Regions from separate parts of the Homo sapiens genome. Here all the other regions are reported to be linked to region 1. Evidence: microRNA targets listed by miRTarBase, many of them from high-throughput screens and not tested one by one. Region 1 holds a microRNA gene; each other region holds the end of a gene's coding sequence.
Evidence for each region. The annotated mature microRNA hsa-miR-7846-3p reads CAGCGGAGCCUGGAGAGAAGG and lies in region 1 at 5,075-5,095, opposite strand. An mRNA with a match to its seed (bases 2 to 7 or 8) in the 3' UTR can be bound and repressed. Matches are read on the target gene's strand: a 7mer-m8 pairs with bases 2 to 8, a 7mer-A1 pairs with bases 2 to 7 and ends in A, and an 8mer does both.

Region 2: miRTarBase lists EHD2 as a target of hsa-miR-7846-3p. Seed matches in the 3' UTR shown: 7mer-m8 at 2,079-2,085.
Region 3: miRTarBase lists LPP as a target of hsa-miR-7846-3p. The part of its 3' UTR that is shown has no 7-base or 8-base seed match.

What each region holds. Positions count from the first base shown.
Region 1 is chr1:12,164,911-12,172,104 of GRCh38, reverse strand. MIR7846 (microRNA 7846) reads right to left here and starts at 5,162; the gene lies at 5,067-5,162. TNFRSF1B (TNF receptor superfamily member 1B) reads right to left here and starts at 5,114. Exons shown (of 10, transcript NM_001066.3): 1 at 4,936-5,114. The coding sequence starts at 5,013. RefSeq lists an enhancer at 4,047-4,688 and silencers at 4,729-4,958, 4,969-5,278.
Region 2 is chr19:47,739,871-47,747,064 of GRCh38, forward strand. EHD2 (EH domain containing 2) reads left to right here. Exons shown (of 6, transcript NM_014601.4): 6 at 1,011-3,264. The coding sequence ends at 1,562. It overlaps NOP53 (NOP53 ribosome biogenesis factor), which reads left to right and starts at 5,676. Exons shown (of 13, transcript NM_015710.5): 1 at 5,676-5,913; 2 at 7,097-7,161. The coding sequence starts at 5,690. RefSeq lists a silencer at 3,885-3,994 and enhancers at 5,559-5,948, 6,369-6,869.
Region 3 is chr3:188,873,294-188,880,487 of GRCh38, forward strand. It overlaps LPP (LIM domain containing preferred translocation partner in lipoma), which reads left to right. Exons shown (of 12, transcript NM_001375462.1): 12 at 1,058-7,194. The coding sequence ends at 1,186. Among named protein-coding and RNA genes, the nearest start is that of TPRG1-AS1, 71 kb to the right of the region's middle.

The DNA of each region.
Region 1 (7,194 bases):
GTCAGTGAGTGGCCCCATCCCTCACTACACGAGGGATGTCGAGGGGGTGAGCAATTTGGGGAGAGGACCCCTAACCTCAGCAGACACCACTCAATGGGAAGAGGAGCCCAGAAAAATACCCCAAGAGATGGAGGCAAACAGAACCCCACCCTGCCACCACTGACTTTTCAAACCCCCGTCTCATCTGTAAAACAGGGCCATTATCAAGGTCAAGGTCAGATGAATATTTTTTGAACACTTACTATGTGCCAGGCACTGTCCTAGGCCAGTGGTTCTCAATCAGGGGCAATCCCCCAACCCCAAAGGACACTTAGCAATATCTGGAGATATTTTTGTCACGAGGGAGGGTGGCGCTACTGCCATCCAATAAGTAGAGGCCAGGGATGTCGCTAAACATCCTACAGCTCACGGGACAGCCCCACAACAAAGAATTAAAGTCAGAGGCACTGACTGAAAAACCCTCTTCTAGGCTAGAGTCTACAGTGGTGAATGAGTCCCTGTCCTCACGGTACTTACAATCTTGTGGGAAGACATAATAAAAGTGAAATAAATAGAATAGGTCAAGAGCATTATACAGGAATACAAAGCAGGTCAGGGAGTGAGAGTGCCTGGCAGGGAGCACCTACAGGCAGGATTGTCTACTTCAGCAGAAGGAAGCGAGGGAAGGAGACCAAGAGACGTCAGCAGGAGGAGTATTGGAGGTGATGGGGAAAGCAAGTGCAAAGGCCCTGGAGCAGGTGTGTGTGCAGCACATCTGAGGACAGAAAAGCATGGCTTAAAAGTGAGAATGGGGCTGGGTGGGGTGGCTCACGCCTATAATCCCAGCACTTCGGGAGGCCGAGGCAGGTGGATCACTTGAGTTCAGGAGTTCGAGACCAGCCTGGCCAACATGGCAAAACCCGGTCTCTACTAAAAAAAAAAAAAAAAAGGAAAAATTAGCCGGGCATGGTGGCACACACCTGTAATCCCAGCTACTTGGGAGGCTGAGGTGGGAAAATTGCTTGAACCCAGGAGGTGGAGGTTGCAGTGAGCAGAGATTGGGCCACTGCACTCCAGCCTGGGTGACAGAGTAAGACTCTATCTCAATAAAAAAAAATTAAATAGAAAAAAAGAAGAAGAAGTGAGAACGGGCCAGGCACAGTGGCACATGCTTGTAATCCCAGCACTTTGGGAGGCTGAGGCGGGAGGATCACTTGAGGTCAGGGGTCCAAGACCATCCTGGGCAATATGGTGAAACCCCGACTCTACTAAAAATACAAAAAAAAAAAAAATTAGTTGGGCATGGTGGTGCATGCCTGTAGTCCCAGCTACTCTGGAGGCTGAGGCAGGAGAATCGTTTGAACCCAAGAGGCAGATGGAGACTGCAGTGAGCAGAGATGTCGCCACTGCACTCCAGCCTGAGCAACAGAGCAAGACTCCATCTCAGAAAAAAAGTAAGAAGTGAGTTGGTGTAGAGTCGGGTGTAACATACATGCCATGGCTCCGGCAAAACTCTTCCCCTTCCCACGCACAACCGTCCCTGCTACTCCTCCAGAAAACATTGCATAGTAAGGACCATAAAGCGTCACCCAGCCGTGGGGAGGGACAGTGCTACGGGGAGCCACTGTGCCAGGTGCCAGGATGGCAGGGTCACCTCTGACGTAAGAATGCCCGGCAGGTTCTCAGCCTTTCACACCCATGGCTCTGTGACAAAGGCCAGGCAGGGAATACTTTCCACAACCACAGATGAGAACATAGGCTTACTAGCTCAGCTAAGCTCATAAGGGCAGTTGGGACAGAGCCCAGGTCTGTGAGGTCTGTGACCTATTGGTAGTGTAGCTCCTAGAGGATTGGAGCTGGAGTCATCTTGAGGTCCCCAGAGCCAGGCACTGGGCTGGGCTTGGACTAGGTGTGTCCATGAACTTTGGGGAATGAATGAATGAATGAATGGCCCTGCCTCAGGGTGCCTGGCCACCTACCCATTGCCCTCTGAAGACGTGCCTGACCAACAGACCACACCCTCAGTCAACACACAGGGTCCCCACTGGGATTTCAGACAGAGGGCAAAGAGACAGAGACGTGGTGGAAGGAGGGAAGAGCCCCCAGGGCCAGCAGGTACCCCAGATCACCCAACTCCTCTTTGACATCCAGCCTGGGAGCCCCCAACCTCTCCCCTAACCCAAACTGGCCCCAGGCCCTGGGTGATGAGGAGGCAAATAGTGGCACCTCAGCACCAAGACTTCCAGGGGTAGGTGGGCCAGGCCCATCAGGCAGAGACCCCTCATCCTCCTCCCCAGACAGCCCAGACCCTGCTCATCCCCATCAGAGGGCACCAAGCACTCACCTACTGCCAGGTTTACTGGCATTTCTTTGTCAAATGAATAAATGGCTAAATGAATGAATGATGTTTTCCATACCAGCTGGCAAATAAGACTTTTAAACGGGGCAAAAGCCCTGCTGGCAGTGAGTCGGCTGCGTCCATGGCTAGCTCAGGTCTCCTGGGGGCTTCTTCTGCAGCTCAGTTGACTTCCATCCTGAGAACCCACTGTGTGTGAGGGCCTGGCTGGGAGCATGAGTGCAGATACGGGCACGGGGAGGGTGCAGTGAAAGGAGCTTGGGAATCAGGCAGACCTGCATTCAAATCCCACCCCCAGCTCCCCGGCCCCCAGCTCTGTGATCCTGGGAAACGCCTCAGTTTCCACATCTCTAAAGACAAACGGCACCACCCACCTCTTGGGAGTTGCTGTAAGGGAGGTTTCAGTGAAATTTTGTGACAAAGTACCTAGCCCAGTGCCTGGTGTTTAGTGGGTGTTCAGAAATCAGGAGCTATGGCGATGCTACTGATGAGAAGGAAGAGGAACCCACAGTTCTGGCCCTGAAGACACCTTCCATCCACTGAGGGGGATAAAACACAGCTAGATTAAAAAGCAGAATGCAATCTGTCCTCAAAGGGAACAAAAGGGCCTGGGAGTTCGAAGAGAAGATCAAATCCAACTGAGAATGCGGAAAGGCTTTCCTGGAGAGAATGGCATTTGCAGAAGGCCTTGAAGGATAGGGGTAAGAAGTGTCCCTTGGAGAGGGGATGGCACGGACAATGCTTTTTGCACAATGACACACACGATGACCATCATCAGTTCTACAGAGGCGGGGGAGCACATGTGCAGGGAGGCGCGAGGAAGAGTTCAGGTACCTTACTCTGGCCTGGGATCTCCAGGGGAGTTTCTGCCTCAACCATTGGGAGCCACAGGAGGCTCCCCAGGCAAACAGAGAGGTGCCTCATGCTTGAGAAGGGTCTCTCTGCCAAGGATCAGCGGGAGAGGGGGCAGGGCCGGGAGACCAGCTACAAGGCTGCGGCAATAGTCCGGGTGGGGTCGTGGGGAGCAGGGATGAGGGAGGAGGGAATATGAGCTGCCGCAGGAGCTGGTCAGGAAGGGAAGGAAGTGGGAGGGAACCTCCTCCAGCTACTCCAGGACTGCAGCCTGGTGTCCTGCTGAGCCCTGTGCCTGACACCCCTCTCCCATCCAGGGGCTCACATGACCCCAGAGTTCACCCAGGCAGGCCCAAGCTCAGCGGCAGGAAGACCCCCTCTGAGGCCAGAGTATATGGCATGACCCCAAAGTCAAGCTGGGGACCACGGTCGTCCCCATTCACACTCGGCCCTAGAGTGGGGACTCTCCTGACCCAAAGGCCACCCAGGACTTACTCTGGGGCAGTTCTCCAGGACCCACTCCTGACACCCACTGTCGGTGAGTCAATTCTAGTCTGACAGCCCCCATCTTCCACCCACAAGAACTGGACTCTCTGGCCTCAGATCAACAAGTCACCTTATGTCACCACAGAAGCCAGTGCCACCTCCCACCTTCCTCCTCGGTCAAGATGTCAGATGGGGGCAGATGGGCCATGTGTCCATCAGGGGCGGCTCTGAGGAAGGATGAACGCCCACCTTCCCCGCAGCCTCAGGGCACAGGGGCCGAAGGCAGGAGAGGCCCCCTTTGGAGGAAGAGTTCCCCCCAGACCCTTCCATGAAATACAAGTTCTCTGAGCCTCAGTTTTCCTTCTCTAAAAAATGGTTTATCTTATCTTACCAAACCATGGAGACAGTAAAACAAAAATGGGGTTATCCTATGTTACCAGACCAGGAGACAGTCAAAAACAGGCAAAGGGTGCACAGTCCCTTGTACGCCCGTTGCTACTGTGGGAGTGACGTTCATATTGAATAGGAGCCCTAGGGTTTCTGCTGTCTCCATTTTCCTGCGGCCCCCGGAGACTTCATTTGCCTTGCTCGATTACCAGCCCAGACCTCCCTCGCTTGCCCTGTCCCCAGAGGCCGCAGAAAACAGACTCTGCAGTAGCCCCCGGACGCATCGGAGGAAGCAGACAGGCAGCTCGCCCTCCAGCTGTGCCCTCAGTGGACCTGACACACACCTGGTCCTGCTCTTCAGACACAGGACCCTGGTATTTCTAAGAAATCGGAAAACCGTCGCCCAGAGGAAAAGGAAGTCTTTTGAAGAGGGTGCCCGGCGTGGGCAGTGGGGCAGCGCCCCGGCACAGCCCCTTCTCCACCGCGTGGGAGGGAAGGGCTGTCGCGGCAGTCGCCGGGGTGAGGGAAGAGGGGTCCCGGGTCTAGCGGGGGTCTGCCCAGGACCCGCTGCTCAGCCCCAAATGCCCCGGCCTGCGCTCGCGGAGGAACCAGGGTGCGCCCCTGTCACGACGCGGGTAAGAGGGGCTTCGGGGGCCAGAGTTGTGCCCCGAGCGCACGTGTGCCGGGCCCGGAGTCCCCAGCGGGTCCCCAGAGGCGCGCGTGTCTGATGCGGATGGGGGGCGGCGACTGGGACTCCCAGCCTCCCAGCCCGTGACAGCGCCCCGGGAGAGCGCGGCCCGGGCACCCGAAGGCTGCGCACCAGCCGGGTGGACATGCGGGGCGGCTGTCCCCCGTGGGCCGCGCGAGTCACCCACCTGGGCGGGCAAGGCGTGCGCCGCAGCCCAGAGCTCCAGTCCGACGGCCAGCGCGGCCCAGACGGCGACGGGCGCCATGGGTGCGGGCGGGGTCCGGTTGCCCCCTGCCCTCGCGCCCTCGCGCCCTCGCAGCCCAGCGCCTTCTCTCCAGGCTCCGCTGCGCTCGCTAGCCCTCGACTGAAAGCGAAAGCCCGCGCCCCAGCGGGCCAGAGGCCAGGCGGCGGGGCGGGGCGGGGCCAGCCGGCCTTGGACACGCCTCCCCCACGCCCCTCCCCAGACGCTGCTGGGCCTCCGACCCGACCACTCCAGCATCGCTGGGCCGATACCTCCAGCGTCACTCCCAGCACTCGGGTGACCCCTCAACCTCCTCCTATCGTCCCCTCCTCTTCGAATCACCATCTCCACCTGCCCGGCCTCCACCTGCCCGGCCTCCACCTGCCCTCCCAGCTCCCACAGGCTTCCCTGTCCCGTGAGGGTGAGGCACTAATTTGGAAAAACATCCCCCAAAGCTGACAGCTGCTTTAGGGGAACCAAGAGAATTCTAGATCATTCACTTATTTAGACTCTATTTTAAATATATTTAATTCTTATTTTTTAATTTTTTTTGAGACAAGGTCTCACTCTTTCACCCATAGCTCACTGCAGCCTCCAACTCCTGCGCTCAAGCGATCCTCCCACCTCAGCCTCCCGAGTAGCTGGGACTACAGGCTCGGGCCACCATGCTAGGCTGATTTCTTTATAGAGATGGGGTTTCGCCATGTTGTCCAGGCTGGTCTCGAACTCCTGAGCTCACGTGTTCTTCCCACCCTCAAGTGATCTTCCCGCCTCTGGCCTCCCAAGGTGCTGGGATTATAGGTGTGAGCCACTGCACTCGGCCTGTTTAGACTCTAGAGCCAGACCACCTGGGTCTGGATCTCTGAACTGACCTCATAGGACTATTCTAAAAATTTAAAGATATGTAATATACATAATGCAGTCTGTACTTTATATATACTTAAGTAAGTATCTACATATATAACAATAGGCATTTATAAATCTTGGCTGTTGTTACTACTCTTCGCGTGTTCATTTATCCTTAAACACGCATCCAGCCTTCTCACAGGGAGAAGACTCTGCACTTCCCTGCTCAAGTCTCCTGCCCAGGCAGGGGGCAGATGAACAGAGGCTGGGAGAGAATGTCACCAGGGAAGCTGCAGGGCCCTGAGGGGCTGCTGAGACCAGGCCCAGGAGAGCTGGCTTCCCCAGGATTTACATCATGACCGAGCACCCATTCCAGCTGCAATCTGTCCCCCCATCCCCACTTTGAGTGCCAGCCCTAATACAGGGCCAGCCCTGCGGGGCCAGAGCACATTCCTCCAGCCCTGGATTACGGGGGTCCTAGCCCCCAGCACATAGGGCATTTCTAAGGGTTGGGGTGGGCTGGGTGGCAGGAGGCTATTCTGTTCCCTGTTTCCTCACTGCAGGCTGCCTGAAGAGGTACAGAGACCCTTGCTCCCGGCCACCAGCCCCACAGTGGAGCCTGCAAGGATGGTGCTTCTAGGTGCTGAGTGCTGAGTGAGAAACTGGGAAGTGACTCCCTGGGGATGGAAAACCCCACCTCCTGACCAGGAGGCTGGGAAATCACCTGGTTTCCACATGTTTCTGTGACATGGACCACGCTGAGGGTGTGGCTGGTATGACCCACAGCCTTAACTCTGCAGAGCCGCTGGACAGACATGCAGAGCTCTTCTGGCCCTTATGAGAATGCCTAGGAGCAGCTCCAAGGACTCCTTGATCCCTAAAATAGAGCTGAAGGCAGGAGGGAGATGTCACCTCGTGGAAGCAGGGGACAATAGTTCTCTCTAGTTGTCCCCCACACACCTCAAGACCAATGGGACCAACAGACTGTCTGCACCCCCAACCCTCAACAACCGGCTCCTCCTGCCAGTTTCCCTATCCCAGTGAATGGCACCATCACCTCCTGAAGGTGGGGATCCTCCCAGGCTTAGGTCCCATCCTGGGAACGAATTCAAGCTTAATCTCTATGCAACATGGGGCTTCTCCCCTTCTCCAGGCCGACCCAGGCTTGAGAGCAGGCGACTTCTCTCTGAACTCTGCCAAGTGCAGTTCTTGACTCCAGGGTCAGGCCCAGGGGTGAGGGTTTGGGAAGGAAAGGGCACAGTGTTCCATGGCAGCCAAAGTTGTCACCCATCTGGCACTGGGGACTTTGGGGACAGTTTCCAGCTCATTCTCTCTGGGGCTCTAGTGCAGGTTTCTTGG
Region 2 (7,194 bases), not on the chromosome of region 1:
TATTGAAATCCTTCTCTGCTAGCTGGCAAAGGGCCGCTGCTCTCACTCATCAGAGGGGCCCCAGCCTCCCCACCCTCCAGTAATTCTGGGGCACAGGAGAAAGCCTCTGGGACCTTGTTGCCCAAGTATCTTCTCATTGGTGGGTGCCCGAGCGGAACAGGTTGTTCAGATGTTCAAATACTTCTGCATGTGTCAGTAAAGAGCTGCCACTCTGGCTGGGTACAGTGGCTCACACCTGCAATCCCAGCACTTTAGGAGGTTGCGGTGGGAGGATGGCTTGAGCTCAGGAGTTCGAGACCAGCCTGGGCAACATAGCAAGACTTGGTCTCTACAAAAAATTTTTAAAACTAGTTGGGCGTAGTGGCGCACACCTATAGTCCCAGCGAATTGCGGGGGCTGAGGAGGGAGGATCACAAAAATTTAGCTGGGTGGGTGGTGTGTGCCTGTGGTCCCAGCTACTTGGGAGACTGAGGCCAGAGGATCGTTTGAGGCTGGGAGTTGGAAGCTGCAGTGAGCTATGTTGGCACCACTGCACTCTAGCCTAAGTGACAGAGCGAGACCCTGTCAAAAAAAAACAAAACAAAACAAAACAAAAATGGCTGGGCGCGGTGGCTCATGCCTGTAATCCCAGCATTGGGAGGCTGAGGCGGGCGAATCATGAGGTCAGGAGTTCGAGACCAGCCTGGCCAACATGGTGAAACGCTGTCTCTATTAAAATTACAAAAATTAGCTGGGCATGGTGGCGCATGCCTGTAATCCCAGCTACTTGGGAGGCTGAGGCAGGAGAATCGCTTGAAACCGGAAGGCGGACGTTGCAGTGAGCCGAGATTGTGCCATTTGCACTCCAGCCTGGGCAACAAGAGCAAGACTCTGTCTCAAAACAAACAACAGTAAAAAAACCCCACAACAGCTACCCCCGAGCTTCTCCAGTGTCCTGATACCACCTTGCAGCCTGAGGGCCTCAGGGATGGCGCCGCTTGAATTCTGGGTGCCCCTGTCCCCCACCACAGGAGCTGCTGATGGCGCACGACTTCACCAAGTTTCACTCGCTGAAGCCGAAGCTGCTAGAGGCACTGGACGAGATGCTGACGCACGACATCGCCAAGCTCATGCCCCTGCTGCGGCAGGAGGAGCTGGAGAGCACCGAGGTGGGCGTGCAGGGGGGCGCTTTTGAGGGCACCCACATGGGCCCGTTTGTGGAGCGGGGACCTGACGAGGCCATGGAGGACGGCGAGGAGGGCTCGGACGACGAGGCCGAGTGGGTGGTGACCAAGGACAAGTCCAAATACGACGAGATCTTCTACAACCTGGCGCCTGCCGACGGCAAGCTGAGCGGCTCCAAGGCCAAGACCTGGATGGTGGGGACCAAGCTCCCCAACTCAGTGCTGGGGCGCATCTGGAAGCTCAGCGATGTGGACCGCGACGGCATGCTGGATGATGAGGAGTTCGCGCTGGCCAGCCACCTCATCGAGGCCAAGCTGGAAGGCCACGGGCTGCCCGCCAACCTGCCCCGTCGCCTGGTGCCACCCTCCAAGCGACGCCACAAGGGCTCCGCCGAGTGAGCCGGCCCCCCTCCCATGGCCCTGCTGTGGCTCCCCAGCTCCAGTCGGCTGCACGCACACCCCTGCTCCGGCTCACACACGCCCTGCCTGCCCTCCCTGCCCAGCTGTAAGGACCGGGGGTCTCCCTCCTCACTACCGCCAGACACCCCGGTGGAAGCATTTAGAGGGGACCACGGGAGGGACAAGGCTTCTCTGTCCGCCCTTCACACCTCCAGCCTCACGTTCACTTAGGCACATCACACACACACTGGCACACGCAGGCATCCATCCATCCGTCATTCATTCAAATATTTATTGAGCACCTACTATGTGCCCAGCCCTGTTCTAGGCACTGGGCATTACCATAGAGAACAAAATAGACAAATACATCTGCCCTCATGGAAGGTGACGTTCCCAGGAGAGGGCACCTACACAGTCACGCAAACACACACTAATTCCTGGCAGGGCCCCCAGCCCCTCCCCTGGCTGAGCAGCCCTGTGGCTGAAATGACTAGCAGATAAACAGACCCCCTTCTGCTCCGCTTCCTCCTGCCCAGCCAGGCAACACCCTCAACCGGCTCCATCACATCCTCAGGTCTCGGGACCATGGGGGGCTCAGAGGGGAGACACACCTACTGCTTCCTCAGATGGGCCCCTCCGCAGCCCCTTCCCTTGCTCGGGGAAAGCCCCCAATTCTGCCCACACCCATTTATTTCCTTCCTTCCTTCCTTCTTTTCTTTCCTTCCTTCCTTCTTTTTTGTTTTTGCCCCCAATTCTGCCCATACCCATTTCTTTCTTTCCTTCCTTCCTTCTTTTTTGTTTTTGCCCCCAGTTCTGTCCACACCCCTTCCCTTTCCTGTCCTGTCCTTTCTTTCTTTTTTGATAGAATCTTGCTCTGTCGCCCAGGCTGGAGTGCAGTGGTGAGATCTCAGCTCACTGCAACCTCCACCTCCTGGGTTGAAGTGATTCTCGTGCCTCAGCCTCCTGAGTAGCTGGGACTGCAGGCACGCGCCACCACGCCCAGCTAATTTTTGTATTTGAGTAGAGACGGGGTTTCACCATGTTGGCCAGGCTGGTCTCGAACTCCGCATCTCAGGTGATCTGCTCGCCTTGGCCTCCCAAAGTGATGGGATTACAGGCATGAGCCACCGTGCCCGGCTTCACACCCATTTCTTTAAAAAGGATCCCGTAGCAGGCAGAAAAGCCCCTTCCATCCTGCTCCTCTGATACTGTGCCCCCTTGGAGATATTTCCGTCCTCCACCCACGTGTCTGTGGCTGGAACTGCCCAGCCTGCTCCTGGCCCCCTGGAAGCCTCCCCACAGCTGGTAATCTGGACTTAAGGATTGCTGGGCCACCGCCTCTCTGCCTACCACCATTCCATATTTAAGTGGAGCCCCTACGTAGAAAGGCCCCGGGGCTTTATTTTAGTCTCCTTTTCAGGGATGTCGTGGGCGGGGGAGGGGGTTCTTGGTGCTACAGCCCTCTCCCCACCCCTAAAGGGACGCCGACGCTGTTTGCTGCCTTCACCACATATTAGTGCTTGACCCTGGCAGGGGACCCCATGGAAAAGATGGGGAAGAGCAAAATACATGGAGACGACGCACCCTCCAGGATGCTCGCTGGGATTCCCACGCCCACCACTGTCCCCCACCCCATGGCTGGGAGGGGCCTCTGAACGGAACAGTGTCCCCACAGAGCGAATAAAGCCAAGGCTTCTTCCCATGTGGCAGTGAGGCTGGCTTGGGACAGGGATCGCCCGCCCTCCCCCAGGGAAAGAGAGACCTGGGCAGGATTTGGGGTGGGGGGAGGCCCCCTTCCGTGCTCTCAGGGGCGGGGTGGAGTCCGTGACTCAATGCAGCGAGGCCTGGTGACTCAGGCCTGGGCTGGGGGCCAGAACGGCATATTTTCCGAGGAAAAGTGACTCTGGGGCCCTCCCCCCGGGACATCCCTTCCTCCCACCTCCCGCGGCGGGGGCCTGGGAACCAAGCCCTGGGGCGCGCGCGGGGTGTGTGTGTGTGTGTGTGTGTGTGTGTGTGTGTGTGTGTATTCGGGCACGAAGTGCTCTCCCAGCTCCCGCCCTGCCCGGCAACGTGCCCTTGCACAACCTGGGTACATAACTCCCGACGCGTAACACCAGGAACACGCTGGTTTCTGGTTGGGGAAGTGGTGACCTTGCCCACACGGGCTGCCAGGAGTGTGCGCGCGCTCACGCACCGGGGACTCTTGGCCAGAGCTGGGCAGCGCACCGTGCGCGCCGAGTCCCGCGCACTCACATCCAGGCCACACCCACGGCGTCCCGGGACACGCTGGCCGCGCACTCATCCCGCCCACGCGGGCCCAGTTTCGCGGCTCGCGGCGCCCCCTGGCGGACGCTCAGAAAACAGATAGGCTGTGGTCGCCAAAATCCCTGCCCAGGTGATTCGGCGCTCAGGTCTCGGGGCTGCGATCCAGGGCCTGTCACCTTTAGGGCCTGTCACCTTTCCAACGCTCTGCGCAAGGATCCAGTTGAATTTCGCTGTGTGACCATGCGTGTGTCGCCTGCCCTCTCTGTGCCTTTTTCCTTTATGAGTCCAGAGTGGCTTTTATGAGGCCTGGATTCCTTTGATTTGATTGTTTTGTTTTTGAGACAGGGTCTTGCTCTGTCACCCAGGCTGGAGTGCAATGGTGCAATCACGGCTCACTGCACCCTCCAACTCCTGGGCTCAAGCGATCCTCCCACCTCAGCCTCCCGAGTACCTGGGACTACAGGCGCACACCATCACGCCTGGCTAATTTTTAAATTTTTGGCAGACACAGGATCTCACTATGTTGCCCAGGCTGGTCTTGAATTCCTGGGCTCAAGCGATCCTCCTGCATCGGCCTCCCAAAGTGCTGGGATTAGAGGCGTGAATCACCACGCCCTGCCATGGATCCCTTTGAATGGCTGCCAGGGCCCAAGAGCCTCTGAGCTTCCTTCCTTATTTGTAAATGACAAAGATGAGTTGATTCTAAGATGAAGCCTCAGAGGGCAAGGCAGTAACAATAGCTAACACTCAGATGCCAGACGCAGCCTTAAGCGCTTTACATATGTTTAATCTTCTGCATGACTTATGACGCAGATGTACTGTTATCATCTTTATTTTACAGATGAGGAAACTGAGGCACAGTGAAGTAGCCCGCTCAAGATGAATGATTCTGAGTCTGCACTTCTAGGGTCCTAAAAGTGTATGTTTCTAACATTCCTCTAATGTTCTGTGCTTCCAACTTTGATATTCCGAAAGTTACTTGATTTCTAAGATCCTAGGATTGGAACATTTGAGAGGACAAAACTTCTGAGATTGGAATGTGTGTTGTGCGGAATCTGCCACTGACGGTTCTGACTTTCTAAGAAAACGAGATTAAAAAATAATCAGGCCGAGCATGGTGGCTCACATCTGTAATCCTAGCATTTTCGGAGGCTGAGGAGGGAGAATCACTTGAGCCCAGGGGTTCAAGACCAGCCTGGACAACATAGTGAGACCTTTGTCTCTTAAAAAAAAACACACACACATCAGTTTGGACCGGGAGTGGTGGTGTGAGCCTGTAATCCCAGCGCTTTGGGAGGCCTAGGAAGGAGGATCACTTGAAACCAGATGTTTGAGACCAGCCTGGGCAACATGGGGAGGCTCCATTTCTACAAAAAATAAAAATAAAAAATTAGCCAGGTGCGGATGCACCCTTCTGTGGTCGCAGCTACTCGGGAGGCTGAGGTAGGAGAATCCCTGAGCTTAGGAGTTGGAGGCTGCAGTGAGCCATTACCCTTCCACTGCACTCCAGCCTGGGGGCAACAAAGTGAGACCTTATCTATTAAAGAAAAAAATCAGTTTGAGCAAAGACCCCAGGCGGCCGGGAAAGGTGTTCGCTTAAGGGCGAAAGCTAAGAACCTGCAACCTTCCCGTCTCTTTCCTACCACCCGCCGCCGTTAGGAATCTTCAGATCCCGCTGTAAAGAATGGAGGAAGGAGGAGCCATTTATCCTTTACCAAGATGGCAGCCTCCTGGCAACTCCAGTCACTTTATAAATATGGCTGCCACAGGAAGTACGTCACGGAAGAGGGTGGGAAATCTGCGCGCGCACGCTGCAAAGGGGCTTTTTGGGACGCCAGTGGCTGAGTTCTTCCTTTGACAAGATGGCGGCAGGAGGCAGTGGCGTTGGTGGGAAGCGCAGCTCGAAAAGCGATGCCGATTCTGGTTTCCTGGGGCTGCGGCCCACTTCGGTGGACCCAGCGCTGAGGCGGCGGCGGCGAGGCCCAAGAAATAAGAAGCGGGGCTGGCGGCGGCTTGCTCAGGAGCCGCTGGGGCTGGAGGTTGACCAGTTCCTGGAAGACGTGCGGCTACAGGAGCGCACGAGCGGGTACGTTGGGCGGGACTTCCGGGAGGTGGGACGGTTCCTGCGCCCAGGTGCAAGGCCAGGCGTGCTTGCGTGGACTCGTCGGGGGTCGGGGGTCGGGGGTCGGGGGTTGGGGGCTCCTGTCCCGGGGACCGCCGAGGAAATGGAGAGCATGGGCAGGGGACTCAGCATGGGAAGCTGGAGAGCTTGATAGAGTTACCAGATTTAGCAGATAAATATACAGGACGCTCAATTAAATTTGGATTTTAGGTAAACAATGAATAATTTTTAGCATAAATACGTTCCATGCATCCACCTTAGCTTGCTGTTTTCTAAATATGTGTGTGTGTGTATGTATATATGTGTGTGTATATATATGTGTATATGTGTGTATATATATATGTGTATATGTGTGTGTGTATATATATGTATATATATATGTTTTTCAGACGGAGTCTCGCTCTATCGCCCAGGCTGGAGTAGGCGCGATCTCAGCTCACCGCAACCTCCGCCTCCCAGGCTCAAGCGATTCTCCTGCCTCAGCTCCTTAGTAGCTGGGATTACAGGCGGGCGCCACCACGCTCGGCTATTTTTCTTTTCTTTTCTTTTTTCTTTTTTTTTTGAGACGGAGTCTTTCTCTGTAGTCCAGGCTGGAGTGCAATGGCACGATCTCGGCTCACTGCAACCTCTGCCTCCTGGGTTCAAGTGATTCTCCTGCTTCAGCCTCCCAAGTAGCTGGGATTACAGGCATGCACCACCACGTCCGGCTAATTTTTGTATTTTTAGTAGAGACAGGGTTTTGCCATGTTACAGGCCAGGCTGGTCTTGAACTCCTGACCTTAGGTGATCCACCCGCCCCGGCCCCCTAAGGTGCTAAGATTACAGGTGTGAGCCACCACACCCAGCCTAATTTTTGTATTTTTAGTAAAGGCAGGGTTTCACCATGTTGGCCAGGCTGCTCTTGAACTCCTGACCTCAGGTGAGCCACCCGCCTGGGCCTCCCAAAGTGCTGGGATTACAGGCGTGAGCCACTGCGCCTGGCAGTCCTTCCTAAATACTAAGTTCTGTAAACTGCTGGGCGAAGCCTTAGCCTGGAAGAGTCCGGTGGCGGGACTTGACTAAGCGGAAGATGAAGGCTGGACCTGCCAGGTTAAATCTCTTTCCTCTCCAACATCTCTGGCTGATGTTCTGCATTTCTGTCCCCCAGTGGCTTGTTGTCAGAGGCCCCAAATGAAAAACTCTTCTTCGTGGACACTGGCTCCAAGGAAAAAGGTGAGGAGAGGCTTTTGTGGTGTGGAATGGCGG
Region 3 (7,194 bases), not on the chromosome of region 1:
AACTTAAATTTCATTCTATGTCAAATGAAGACATGAACTCCATTGACCTCCTTGCCACCATGGTAGATAGCAGAGGCGAGGTTCATAGCTGTTGTGGCCTTTGAGAGTTTATACTAAAGTTAGCAAACACACACCTCTTGATGAAGTACTATGTATTTATTTTCCAAAGAAACTTCTATTTTCTCCAAAGACAAAGGCCAGCATTTAACTGTTATATAACACTTTTCAAAATGGACCCTAAGAGGAGCTGTCAGCGGTAGTATATTCCTTTACAGTTATGCAGTTCTTTGCATTTTTTTTTTTGATCCATTATCTTCTTTGATCCTCTTAACAGCTTGGTAAGGTAGAAAAGGCAGAAGTTATTTTCAGAGTGGCAGTCGGCCTGTGTGCATTGAGGCAGACTGTAGCAAAACTGTGGGTGGTGCTCAGGAGGCCTGTCCCCTGGACTAGCAATCTTTGCTCTCCACAATGCTGTCTCCTTTAGAAAGTACAGCAAACCACTACTCCCCACAAACTTTAGGATTTTATTTTCTTACTGCAGTTGAAGTAAATACACCGAACCCACTGGTGGCCCTTCTGCTTGGCAGACATCAGTCTACCTTTGCTCTAGGCCAGAAATGGCCAAAACATTCCATTCCTGTACCTGTGCATGCATTTTGAGAGATCCTTAAACTAATGGTAAAGGGTAAAAAATGCATCGGTGGTTAGGGACATTCTTATTTTCTCTTGTTGAGTGGGGGCAGCAAACTTCTACATGGGAGCCAAGATGGGTGGCCTCTTCTCTTCTTATACCTGTATTTCATATCAAGTGAGCTTAGGAGGATTATATTTATGTCCATTTATATTTATGTCCCCAATCTCTAATTCAATTACATTCAAGATATACTATGTTATATATTGGGAGAAAGGATACAGGGGATTAGCAGAATGTAAAGCAGGAAGGATAGTAAGTGGCCACATTATGGAGGCCTTGAATAGAAAGCTCAATCATGATGTTCTCCACATGTGTACTTAACGTTTTTACTTATGTCGTTTCCATCTGTCTTTACTGTTCTAGGATTGCGGTGGTCTCCTGTCTGAAGGAGATAACCAAGGCTGCTACCCCTTGGATGGGCACATCCTCTGCAAGACCTGCAACTCTGCCCGCATCAGGGTGTTGACCGCCAAGGCGAGCACTGACCTTTAGATTCAGTCACCTGTTCAGCCGGCACTGAGAAGAACGAACACAAGAAAAAGATAAGAAATACTAGAGTAAAGGCCATCAAACTACGCGATAGTCTCTGTTCTTCATCTGCTATTAACCTTGCCTTAGAAACACATAAATTATGAGATTTTTTTTAAAAGTTGTTACCAAATACACATTTCACATTGAATCATGTAGGATCTTGATGGGCCTTTGTTCCCAAGGACTTCCACATTTTTGCACAGATTATGCTCCATCCCATTCACTTCTGCATTCCTGTAACTTTTAATCCCTATGTTTGTCTCACTTTTCATCTGGTTGAATGGCTTTTCTTAGTGTGGTATTTGCTGTCACATAGTTTTTCCTGGGTGAGTCTGCCAACTCACAGGTGCTTTTAGGCTTGAAATCTCCATCCTATCATTTCCGTTTTGCCTGTGACTGTAAAGAGTAGCCATTCTTTTCCCATGTATTGAAGAGGATATTCTTCTCTTGCTTTATACTACTCACGTCCTTGGGGAGGGAAATGCACAATTTTTTTTTGTTAGGCTGTAAAGAATTTAAGCTGTAAATTACATAAGTTAGAACAAGCCCAAATTTAATTTGCAACCATCAGAATTCAGAATCTATAGTGACCAGTGATCAAGGCTAATTGGAAAAGAGTTATCGGCCCATAGCTAATAAGTAGTGACAGACAACCAAGCTTCAATATTTTTCTAAAGAAATTACAGGTGGGATATGCTAGAAAAGGCATTTTGGGGTTATGTTTAAAAAAACATTATTGTCCCACAATATTACCTTAAGATTTTTCTTTTCCGCACTACCTGAACATTGTAATACAGACAAACTTGATTTCTTCTAGAAGATAACATTTTCAATACTGTCCCACTTCTCATCTTAAAAATATTGTCATGTTTATTCTAATATCCAACACAACTATCAAAATTGCCTTTTTCTCTAGAGGATGAAGGCTGTGAAAAAACCGTTCAAATTCTCTTCTTTTTCTTTTTTATTACCAGGTCCATTTTGCCTGACAATTGCAAATCAGAGCATACAAAATAAAACTGTGCAGTTTTGTTTGGTTTACTTTCAAAAGAGTAGAAAGCTTGAAAAGATTCTGAAACCACAGTTTCATTATTCTCATAATCCTTCTGCAACTGAAATTACATATTGCAGGAGACATTTTCATATCATCAATGTGACATTTACACCACACTTTCAAAGACAATCACTGAAACAAAAATTGTCTTTATGAGCTAAAAATATGCAGAATCTCTGCCTAGAATCTTTATTCAAACTTTTATTAGCCAGTGAAACACTTGCTTGCCAACTGCCAAGCCATACTTATTAAGTTCGAACATGTTTCACTTAAGGAGAGACACCTAGCTTAGTCATGGCAAGTTGCCATTTTGTAAACTAAGGATTTTGGACTGAGATTTCTTAAATCTTTCTTCAAATCTCCCACAAGTATATACTTTTAAATTATGGAGTATTTTAAGTCTACAAAAAGGTATAAATAATAATATAATGAATTCCTATATACCTAATACCCAGTTTAAGACACCAAATATAACAAGTATAATTACATCCTCCAATGTACCGTTTCCTTATTCCACAGATATCTTTTTCATTATTGTGAAGTGATGTTCAGATTTCTAGTTTTTTTTCTAGTTTTTAATTTTAACATCAGAACTGAAATAAAAAATTATGGATACGTGTTTTGAATTGCAAACTATTCCTCAGGAATTCCAATTAAATTTATTTTACTTGAATAGGAATGATCATAAAAGTGATTCTTTTTTTGTGACTAGAAATTCTTAAGCCGATGGTCACTATAGCTCATCCTTAATGTATGGCTCATTTGCTTTTGTCACTAAACGGTTTTGTGTTAGAACCACCAAAATTATAGCTTTTAAGAGCTTCCTTTGACCACTGTCTTTTTCTTACCCTAGTTCTCTTATCTTTGATCGTATATTTCTCATAATGTGAAATATGATGAGATTCACTTAGGGGCAGCATGTTAGTTTTGGGAGGCAATGTCAACTGTGTCTCTGAATTCCTGTCTTCCAAATTGAAGCCAGACCATGCTGATGACCTCAAGTAGCACTGACTATTTGACAATAGGGCTGATAATGTAATCGGCTTGAATTTTGACTTAGTAACTTTTTATGTAATACTTTCGGAGAAATTCTCTTTAGGACAAAGCAGAGAGTCCAATTTATTGAGGGATAGATTGTATCTCTTAAAGTGGTCATATTATTATTAATTTTGCCAAAAGAAGAAGAATTTATTGAATATTTATACTATAAAATGCAGTAACATTCTACTTGCTTATTACATTTAAATCCTTGTGTAACTGAATGTTTACATGTCAAGAGGAAAAGCTGTAAGAAAATGCTGTCACAGACCCATCCCTGTGGCATCGTCAGCAGAATACTGCTTGCTTACAATCTTTATTATGCATTCTTATAACATAACCTCAGAGTATCTTTACCAAAGGTTTTTAAAGTAAATCTCTTTTTAAGATAGACTTATTCTTTTATAATAATGAATGTGCACTCATACATATGTAGAAACATTTAGATTTAGAGTTTTTTTTTTCTTTCACAAGGTATAATAAGGAAAGGATCCTACAATATTTTATTCTAGGGTTTCTTAAATATATGATTTATATTACTGTCTTTTCTATTAATCATTTGATTTAAACAATGCCAAGTCACTCTTTTTTAGTTGCATGAAATTTTGCCTGCAACAGAGAGAAAAAGATTGTATTACTTTAATGATTATAATCATACTGTCTGCTGATATAATATCATAATTGTTGTGGTTTAAATACATAAATAGTAGAAAAATCAGAGTCTATAACAGAAAGTTTGTAAAAATATACTGATTTTGAAAAGTATCAGGAATATAAATATTTGGTAATTCTGTGTAACAAGAGAGACATGGAAAAGGAAAAAAATCCACTATATCATGGGCTCTGCAGAACATATCAAAATAGGATTTCTTAAATTTTTCAACCCCCAGACCATACTGACTCAACATGGAGTCTCACTGGCCAAGAAAATTGCCTTTAAAACTCGAAAATAAGGCCAGGTGTGGTGACTCACACTTGTAATCCCAGCAATTTGGGAGGCTGAGACAGGAGGATTGCCTGAGGCCAGGAGTTTGACACCAGCCTGGGCAACATAGTGAGACCTTGTCTCTACAAAAAATAAAATAAAATAAAAACCAAATTAGCCAGACATGGTGGCATGCGCTTGTTTAAAAAAACAAATAAATAAATAATCGACTCAAAAATAAGTCATGTGTCCCAGCATAAGGCATCAGGTTGTTAGATGCTGGCATCTCTGCAGCTCAAAGATGTGGGTTCTTTTTCTTGTCATTAACACATTGTTATTTCTGTAGGAGCAACTTCTCTGATCAAAATTACTTTTCTGGGTATGTGCTGATTAAGGGGGTGGACTTATCAACACTATAATTGTTCCCTATGAAAGATTCCACAGAGATGTTTATGGTGAGGTTTAAAGGATATGAAACTCTACATTTAAACAAGTATTTTATATTTGGGTACAGAGGAAGAAAGAGAGGGCTTTTTCCATGGGGCTATAGTAGAGAGTTAGTGGAATATAGACAGGACTCTGAAAACACAACTTCCAGCCATTTTTTTAGTTAGTAAAAATCCTATTAATGTGAACCAGCCAGGAATAACAGTGTTATTTCTATTGGATATGGTTTGGGCTTCTCTTGTCAAATCTGTGTCGGCTGCCCCCTGATCCTTCCATTATCAAGTTTTGAAGGGTGTTGGGGAAATTATGGCAGCTGCTAGGGAGATCAGGGAAACACTGATGTAACCTCAAAGCCTCTCACCATTCCTCTTGGCTTGGAAAGGCTTTATTTTTTCATATACATTTCTAGAAATATTGCTATTCTACCTTAGTATTTCACATTTGTAGTTCAAACAAGCGATTGTCCATCTGTTGCCTAGAGCTATAGTACATGTGTGTTATGAATGAAATATGACAGCATGTTCCATACCCCTGCTTTAGCCATCTGTGGGAAACCAGCAAACTGAAAAAGACACCTCTGCAAAATGTGCCTCAAGTCCATTTCTTGGGATCGCTCGTTTGGTGCACTCTCGTGGGAGACAATCAGAGAACAACATATACTTGTGCCTTATTTTCAAAGAATCTATTTACACTACTATGAATATTCCACTGAAGAGTCAATGATGTAAATGATAACCACCAAATCTCAAAAATATACTCACCAAAAAGTAAAAAAGTAAAAAAAAAAAAAAAAGAAAGAAAGAAAAGAAAGAGAGAGAAGTCAACTTTTCATCTTAATATATTCTAGTAGTATTTATTTTTTCCTTGTCTTGGAAGTATCTCATAGGTCTTTAAATGAGTAAAACATTTTTATGCCAGAAGGTGATATAATGGATGTTAGTGTTTTTTATTTGATTTTACAGTAGTTTTAGTCAGATAATGAGGACAGAGACTTCAACTTGATTCTTTACCACCATTCAGCATATTTTTTAATTGTCTTCATTGTATTTGCTTAATAGTGGTCCAGACAAGTTCAAAACTTGTTCTCAGTGAGGCATTAATATGGTGCAACCATGAATATTTCAGGCCAAGTTATTCACTTGACAGATAACTAGAATGAAACTTTTCTCATGAGGCTGTTGTTTGGTTAGCATAGCCTTATTTCAAACCTTAAAAAGTTACCTGACTGAAGCTACTATGACTTGGTAAGGATTCTTCCTCTCTTGCTTTCTTCCTCCCTTCCTTTCTTCCTCTTCCTTCCTCCTCTTCTTATTTTCTTTCCTACTTTCCATCCTACCTATTAGTGTTGCTGTACTTGGATTTTTTGTAAATTAAATCAATGCATTATGATTTTAGGGAATTATGATTATATTCATAAGGGGAAGGCTACCAGAAAATATATGTGGCATCCATAAAATCTTCTTTTATAGGGGCATATTTTTTAGGTTGTATTTATTCGTAAAGTGAAATGAGATAATAGAGTCTTTCTGTTTCATGTTAATGAATTTTCATCAGGGACTGAGGTCATAGATTCTTGGAAAATTCATTTGTGACTGATCTAGTTTTCTCAGCTGTATGCAAAGTAATCTTTCAAAGACTAGGTTAAGATTTTTTTTTTAAGTCTGAAGCAATGTAACCCCAAAAAATTATAATTTTAATGATGGCATTTTATTTTATTCCATTGCAGCTTGATAACTTTCCTTATAGCAAAGGAATAACTATTGTATTTTCAGAATTTTAACACAGATTAACACTTAGCCTGTAAGACTAATAATATATTGTAATAGTTGATACTAAAATATTTTTCAGCAGGTTGGACAGCACCAGTTTTTCTTAGATCACAGACTACAGGCAGAATTTCCCTTCAATCCAGAAAAAAGGACACTAATTTCCTTTTCTATTTAATTTTCCTGGCCCTTGTGCAAAAAATTGTGGACTCTATCTTAGTTACAACATGCATGTCCCTTATTTTGTGGAGAGCTGTGTGAAAGATGCGTTTTTTTTCTTTTTTTCTTTTTTTTTTTTTTGAGACGGAGTCTGGCTCTGTCACCCAGGCTGGAGTGCAATGGCACGATCTCCTCTCACTGCAAGCTCCGCCTCCCAGGTTCACGCCATTCTCCTGTCTCAGCCTCCCGAGTAGCTGGGACTACAGGCGCCTGCCACCACGCCCGGCTAATTTTTTTGTATTTTTAGTAGAGATGGAGTTTCACAGTGTTAGCCAGGATGGCCTCGATCTCCTGACCTCGTGATCCACCCGCCTCGGCCTCCCAAAGTGCTGGGATTACAGGCGTGAGCCACCGTGCCCCGCGTGTTTTTTTCTTTAGCTGATTGACAGGTCCCCTTCAAAGTTACAAAAAAAAGTGCTAATTTTTGCTGTTAAATTCTGGTTGTTATTTAATTGACAGAAGTCTCTTGATGCACGAATAAATATCTCTACATCTAGCCTTTGTTAAAAATAAAAATTAA